2 linked regions of the Homo sapiens genome follow. The protein of the gene in region 1 purifies or fractionates together with the protein of each later gene. This does not show direct contact. Each region holds a gene or a part of one and is shown in the gene's direction. Other genes may lie near its edges.

The links. Proteins that work in one complex are often made in the same cells at the same time.
Region 2: the proteins of PTPN2 (region 1) and CMKLR1 purify together in Homo sapiens (co-immunoprecipitation; one large-scale study listed by IntAct). This does not show direct contact.

Annotation. Positions count from the first base shown.
Region 1 is NC_000018.10:12,825,129-12,828,781, reverse strand, and holds part of PTPN2 (tyrosine-protein phosphatase non-receptor type 2), read left to right. Parts: intron 1-2,837; coding exon 2,838-2,972; intron 2,973-3,653. UniProt on the Homo sapiens protein: Non-receptor type tyrosine-specific phosphatase that dephosphorylates receptor protein tyrosine kinases including INSR, EGFR, CSF1R, PDGFR.
Region 2 is NC_000012.12:108,332,702-108,336,354, reverse strand, and holds part of CMKLR1 (chemerin-like receptor 1), read left to right. Parts: intron 1-3,653. UniProt on the Homo sapiens protein: Receptor for the chemoattractant adipokine chemerin/RARRES2 and for the omega-3 fatty acid derived molecule resolvin E1.

The DNA of each region.
Region 1 (3,653 bases):
TCACAGCAAAAATAAGGATATATATTGCAACTGGACTGGTCATTGTTTTTAGGGCTTTTCAGTGGACAAAAGCTAAGGAACAATATGCATATGTTAAGATAACATACTTCAAGAGTTCATAATGATATTCCCAGTTCAAATTTGGAACTATAAGTGTTGCTTAGCCCCTTCCATCTTACATCTGCTATTTCCTTTTTCATACCAAGAATCCTGGTTCTCAAAGATATGAGAGATGTAAACTATCTTGTAATGACTCATTTCCTTCTTCCCATATCATATACAATATATAACCATAATCATGATATCATCTGCTACCAAAATAATTACTGAAAATGGTTTACAATTTTTAATATTTTTTTCATTCTCTTCCTGGTGTTTCTGAGTTGTACTTTACAAACTGTAGTCTCTCCCTTACATCTCTTGTAGACTCTTAGTTCTACAAGCAAGCATTATTTAATATTCATCAACAGTCTTTGCTGATGTCTCTCCAGTCATTCTGACTAAAGCTCATTCTCTAGTGGCTCCTAAGGAGGGACTTGTGAGCATTATAGTCTGATTTTTTTACATGTCAGTGATGGTTCATCTGCTGTCTTAATATCTGAAAGTCAGTTTGGCGGGATATAAAATCCTTGGCTCATGTGCTATTCTTTGAACAACTTTTTTTTTCCATTTCCTTCTGGTATTCCACCAAAGTCTAATGGACATCTTATTTCCTTTATAAGTCTCTTGTTCTTTTTATCTGCACTACCCAAAGAATTCTTTTTTTCTTTTTCTTCAGATATTATTAGTTTTACCAAAAATATGTCTTAGTAATTGGCCATTCTGGGTCAGTTTTTACAGGTACATGATGTGTTCTTGAGAGTTTGACTTCAAGTACTTTTTAAAATTTTTTAAATACTTTTTGTTAAAGAAATATTTGTTGAATTACAGTCCTTAGTATTTGTTCTGCTCCCTTGCTTGCTTTAATGTTCTTCTTTGGGTCTTCCTATTATACGTATGTTGGATTTTCTTTGCCTACCTTTTTTATTTGTCACGTTCTCTTTAATCCTGTTTATCTCTTTATTTCTATTTTACTTAAAAAAAATTTTTTTTTTTCTGGCCAGGTTGGAGGGCTTACACCTATAATCCCAGCACTTTGGGAGGCTGAGGCAGGAGGGTCACTTGAGCCCAGGAATTCAAAACCAGCCTCGACAACAAAGTGAGACCCTGCCTCTACAAAAAATACAAAAAGTAGCCAGGTGTGGTGGCACGCACCTGGAGTCCCAGCTGGGGTTGGGGGATTGCTTGAGCCCAGAAGATTGAGGCTGAAGTGAGCCAAGTTCACCCCAGTGCACTCCAGCCTGGGCTACTACAGAGCAAGACACTGTCTCTTAAAAAAAAAAAAAATTATTTATTTTCCTCTTAAGGCATTATTATTATTATTATTTTTTTTTTTTTTTGAGACGGAGTCTCGCTCTGTCGCCCAGGCTGGAGTGCAGTGCTGCTATCTCGACTCACTGCAAGCTCCGCCTCCCAGGTTCACGCCATTCTTCTGCCTCAGCCTCCCAAATAGCTGAGGCTACAGGCGTCCACCACCACACCCGGCTAATTTGTTGTATTTTTAGTAGAGACGGGGTTTCACTGTGTTAGCCAGGATGGTCTCGATCTCCTGACCTCATGATCCGCCTGCCTCAGCCTCCCAAAGTGCTGGGATTACAGGCGTGAGCCACCGCGCTTGGCCAGCAACATTTATTTTGAAGATAAAATTATTGCAAGAGTTTGATAATTTTAGAAACATAAAGTGAATGTCCCATGACGTTAAAATATAGGTAATCATGCTTTAAGAATGATAAATTTATTTTTATTTTATGAATATGATACCTATGGCTTTTTTAGTTTATAAGTTACAGGAACACTTAAAAAATACCTTATAAGACCGGACATGGTGGCTCACGCCTGTAATCCCAGCACTTTGGGAGGCTGAGGTTGGTGGTTCACTTGAGGTCAGGAGTTCAAGACCAGCCTGGCCAACATGGCAAAACCCTGTCTCTACTAAAAATACAAAAATTAGCTGGGTGTGGTGGCAGACGCCTGTAATCCCAGCTGCTCAGAAGGCTGAGGCAGGAGAATTGCTTGAACCCAGGAGGCAGAGGTTGCAGTGAGCCAACATCACGCCACTGCATTCCAGCCTGGGCGACAGAGCAAGACTCCAGCTCAAAAGAAAAGAAAAGCCTATGGAGACAGAAAATGGATCAGTGCTTGCCTGTGGCTTGGAGTGGGAATAGGACACAAGGGGATTTCTGAGTCTGAGAGAAATGTTCTAAAACTGGCTTACAGTGATGACTGCACACACATAAAAAATGCTTTATAAAATTTCAATCTCTACCCGCCCTGCTCCCCGAGATGGAGTCTTGCTCTGTCACCCAGACTGGAGTGCAGTGGAATGATCTTGGCTCACTGCAACCTCCACCTCCTGGGTTCAAGCGATTCTCCTGCCTCACTCTCACAAGTAGCTGGGATTACAGGCGCCCGCCATCGCGCCTAGCTAGTTTTTGTATTTTTAGTAGAGACAGGGTTTCACCATATTAGCCAGGTTGGTCTCGAACTCCTGATCTCAGGTGATCCTCCCGCCTCAGCCTCCCAAATTGTTGGGATTACAGGCGTGAGTCACCGCGCCCGGCTATAAAATTTCAATCTTACTAAAATACATTAAGCGTAGAATATAGTAGTGACTTCTTAGTTTTGGGTACTTGAAAAAATATAGCATGTATATATCTGGTTTGTTTTCATTTTTTAACTTTATGGTTTCATGATGTCTATAAACTAAAAAAAAATCATATACATATTTCTAAATTTAGGTTAAATGTGCACAGTACTGGCCAACAGATGACCAAGAGATGCTGTTTAAAGAAACAGGATTCAGTGTGAAGCTCTTGTCAGAAGATGTGAAGTCGTATTATACAGTACATCTACTACAATTAGAAAATATCAATGTAAGACCTTTCTTGCCCGAAATTGTGGACTTTATATGATGGTTTAAAGAATTATTCTTTATTATTAGATTTGAAGTTTGATAAGCACATGCATTTGGATAATTCCTATAGTATCTAGCCATAATCACGTGTTTTTAGATTGTGTGTCTGCATCTAGTAGCTTTCTGAGGACTCTGAAGAAACAGTAGAAACTAAGAATTTCAAAGTTCAGTTTGATATTTGGGGATTAAAAATTAATTAATAGAAATACATGAGGATTAATAGAGAGGGCTTTAGAATCAGGCAAACCTGGATTCAGATCCAGCTCTGCTGCTTAGTAGAGCTGTACTTTAGACTTGTTCCCCACCCTCACTGATCCCTTCCTCATCTGTAAAATGGAGGTTACCACGCCTTCCCTCCGGGGCTGTCCTGAAGGTCAAATGAGGATGTGTATGCAGAGCACCTGACCTTAGTAAATGCCCAGCAAGCAATAGCTCCCAGGACCTGTGACTGCCAAGAATAGCAAAATAGTCAAGAAAATAACTTACAAAGCTATTGTTAAGTGATTCACAACACAAAAATTTGTCCCTATTGAGTTGGAAAAAAAATGGTGTTTTATATATATATGTAACACGCACACATACATACATACATACACACACATGTATAAATGTGGCATGTGGTCTCAAGAACATTTACTTG
Region 2 (3,653 bases), on another chromosome or scaffold:
CAGGATGGTCTCAATCTCCTGACCTTGTGATCCACCCACCTCGGCCTCCAAAAGTGCTGGGATTACAGGCGTGAGCCACTGCGCCCGGCCAATTGTGAGTGTTTCTTAAAGCTTCAGTTTGGAAATCAGAATCTCTGTGGATGAGGCTTCAGTGTCTGCATGTTGAACCAGCACCCCAGGTCATTCAGATGCACCCCAAAACTTGAGAACTACCAACCTAGAGTGCTTAAAAGTCTTTCCTTTTTGCCCTTTGTTCACACTGGGGTCTTGGGTTCTTTGCTGCACAATAAGGTTTCTTTTTTCCCTTCTAAGCAAATATTCATGTACTTCTGTGAATCCACATGTTCCGTGTCAGCAGTTGAGGCCAGAAGGTTTGGCAGAGAAGAAGCGAAACTTTGTCTTATAGTACCACAGAAAGTCAGATCGTGTTAGCAATCCCCCAGCATGGAGGCTTTGAAATTATTTTCAGTTGCAGAATCCTTTCCACAAATGAAAGTCTTATGGGGAAGTGTAATTTGAAAACAGATAAAGGTGGTGTTATTCTTGTTGAAACAGAGGTGGAAGACTCCAGGCTGCCACTAAATCTCACTCTTGTTGCTGAAGGGCCTCTAAGAATCTTTGTAGCTCCATGGGGCAGGCAGGAAACTGCAACTCCTCTACTCCAAGGAGTTAAGAGACCAAAGTTCTAGACATTTGTTGAGCTTACTGTGTGACCTTGGCAAGGCACTCTTACTCTTTGGCCACAATAATTTCATCTGTAAATAAGGAGGTCGAATGGTATATCAGCTAGGGTAGTAGCTGCAGTAACAAATAGGTCCCCAAAGGCATAAGGGCTGAAGCAAAGCAGAGCTTTATTATAAGGCAAGTATTTCTGAATGGAGGGTGGTCCTCTTCCTCATGGTACTTCAGTGACTCATCTGGTGGTCCCACTCTCTCCTCAGATATCCTCATTGTCTGCAGCCAGGTGCACAAGACAAAAGAAAGTATGGAGGTGGCATATTTGCTTATCTGCTTTGGCCTGGAAGCAGCAGACATGACTTCCACTCACATGAGAACTATCATGTGGCCAATCTAGTTGCAAAGGAGGCCAGGACATGGAGTTACAAGGATATGAGGTTCTTGGCAAAGAGCAGCTCTTTCCCAGCCACAGTCGTGTATTGTGGACAGGGAGAATGAATTTTTGTGGACAGCTACCTGTCTCTGTCACAAATGTGGTGACCTCTTGGGTTGCTTCCATTCTTTGATTCTAAGTCTACATTTCCATTAGTCAATCTTAGTTAACATGGTGATGTTGGACTCACAACATCACCTATCCTCAAGGTAATTCCCATCAAATATACTAAGTAAATTTCCAGACTCCAGGCCCCTAAACATGGATTTTTCTGAAACATAGGCAACTGCCATTCTCTTTTCCCCCTGGAAAAAGGAAATAAGAATAATGGTTTGATAGAACATGCTGCGGGTTATTAAGCCAAAGGTATTTATATCCATTATCTACTTGAATCTCCCTACAAGCCTACATGGAAAGGCCTCAGGACTATCATCCCCATTTTATAGGTGAATAAAATGAGGCTCAGAGAGCTAAAGGGACTTGCCTAAGGTCACACAGCTCATAGCAAAAGAATGGGATTTGAACGAAAAACATCTTATTCCTGTCCTAGGGCCCCACTGCACATTTGAATGTTGGTGTTCATGTACGTGTACATGGTGTGGTTAGAGTCGGGATTTTCCTTGGGCTGGGCTCCCCCAGGGCTGGGCATGAGGGAAGTGAAAGCTCAGGAATCATGCTCAAACTCCCCAGAATGGGCCAAGGCTGCTGACTGTAAGGCAGCTGGGTGGTTGTCCTAGGTCCTGGGGTGAAGAAGTACAGTGTGACCAAGTATTACAGCCACTGGCTGTGTAAAAGAGAAGGGACAGTGCATGAGGGTGTTGTGTGGTCCTGGAAGACACTGAGGCTTCAACTGGGCTGGCCACATAGTGGGTGCCTGGGAGCACTTTCCTGTGTGAATAAATGCATGTGGGAGTAACAGCTGCAGCACTGTGAGAAAATGAGATGAATCAGACCTGCTTCCTGTCTTTGAGGCCCTCAGGGGAGGAGAGACAAACTTGTAACATATACTTTTATTAATTCACTCAACAAACATTTATTAGCATCTACTACACGTCTGGCTCTCCACAGGGCAAGAACGATGGAAAGACAGGATTCCTATCCTTGTGGAACCCATTTGAGAGATGAGGAAAGTGAGGCCCTGATTGGTTACGTGACATTCCCAAGATCATTTGGCCAGATTAGGACTTGAAACACCTGGCTTCCAGCCCAGCACTTTTTCCATAGCCCCTGCTGAGGAGGTGGCCGTAGGCCAGGACTGAGATGCAGTGAGGAGCCCCTGTTATTGGCAGCCACTTTGAGCTGCCGCCGGACTCAGGACATGCTGGTTTCAGGCGATAGCACGAAACCAGTTATTTCTTTTTAGAACCTCTAGATTTTTGCAGCAATGGACACAGGTATGAATGAGAAAAAGTAGAAATCCTTGCACTGTCAGATGGAATCAAGAGGCAGTAATTCTACGTGGTGCTATCAGAGAAAGAAATGTTGACGTCTGGGTGACGTTGGCTGGTAGCACACTGTGGTGATGATAGATCCCAGATCCAAGTGCTCCAGAGTTGAGATCCCAGCTCTGAACTTTAACCTCCTGAGCCCCTCAGCTTCCTCATTCATAAGGTGGGCATGCTATGAGTACCTGCCTGTCAGGGTTATGGTGAGATTAAATGAGTCCATATCCATCAAGCACTGAGTACAGCACGTGGTCAGTTCAGTGAAGGCATTTCTATTTTTATTTTTGGGACAGTGAGCTTTGAAATTGGCCTTTGCACATCTGGGTGTCTGGTGCCTTGTGATCTTGGGTTCCCAGACTGGAAAATGTCATTTGGGCTAGTCTCTTGCCTCCATGTCTGGCCCCAAGGAGAGGTCTTGGGCTCTGCTGGTGGAGAGTGCCCTGGGCCTCACTGTCTTCACCATAGACAGTCTCTGGCAATGTTGGAAGTACCAGCGGCTGACTCAGCAGGGAGGTCAGCTGCTATCCAGGCAGAATGTCAGAATCGGTTCTGCTTTCTTGGGGTATAGGACATGGGTCCTCAGATTCCAGCCCTGGGTTCCTGCTGAGGGCAGCTCTTGTGCAAGGAGGTGGGTGGGTGGGGAGATGGGTACAAAAAACAACAGTGAGCACACTTGGTTTTTCCTCCTGGAAATCAGGGGTCAGAGAAACAGGAAGTCAATGGAGAGAGGGTGTGGTGTAGTGAGAAGAGGGCAGGCCCTGTGGTCTGGCAGATGTGAGTTCTAATCCTGGGTTTGACACCTATTGATTTATTTTTTATTTTTTGAGACAAAATCTCATTCTGTCACCCAGGCTGGAGTGTAGTGACATGATCACAGCTCATTTGCAGCCTCGACCTCTGGGGCTTAAGTAATCCTCCCACCTCCTGAGTAGGTGGGACTATAGGCATGCATTACCATGTCTGGCTAGTTTTTGTATTTTTTGTAGAGACAGGATGTATTAGTCAGGGTTCTCTTAGAGGGTTCTCTTACGGTTCACTCTCTACATATAAAAAGGGGGAGCTTATTAAGTATTAATTTACATGATCACAAGGTCACA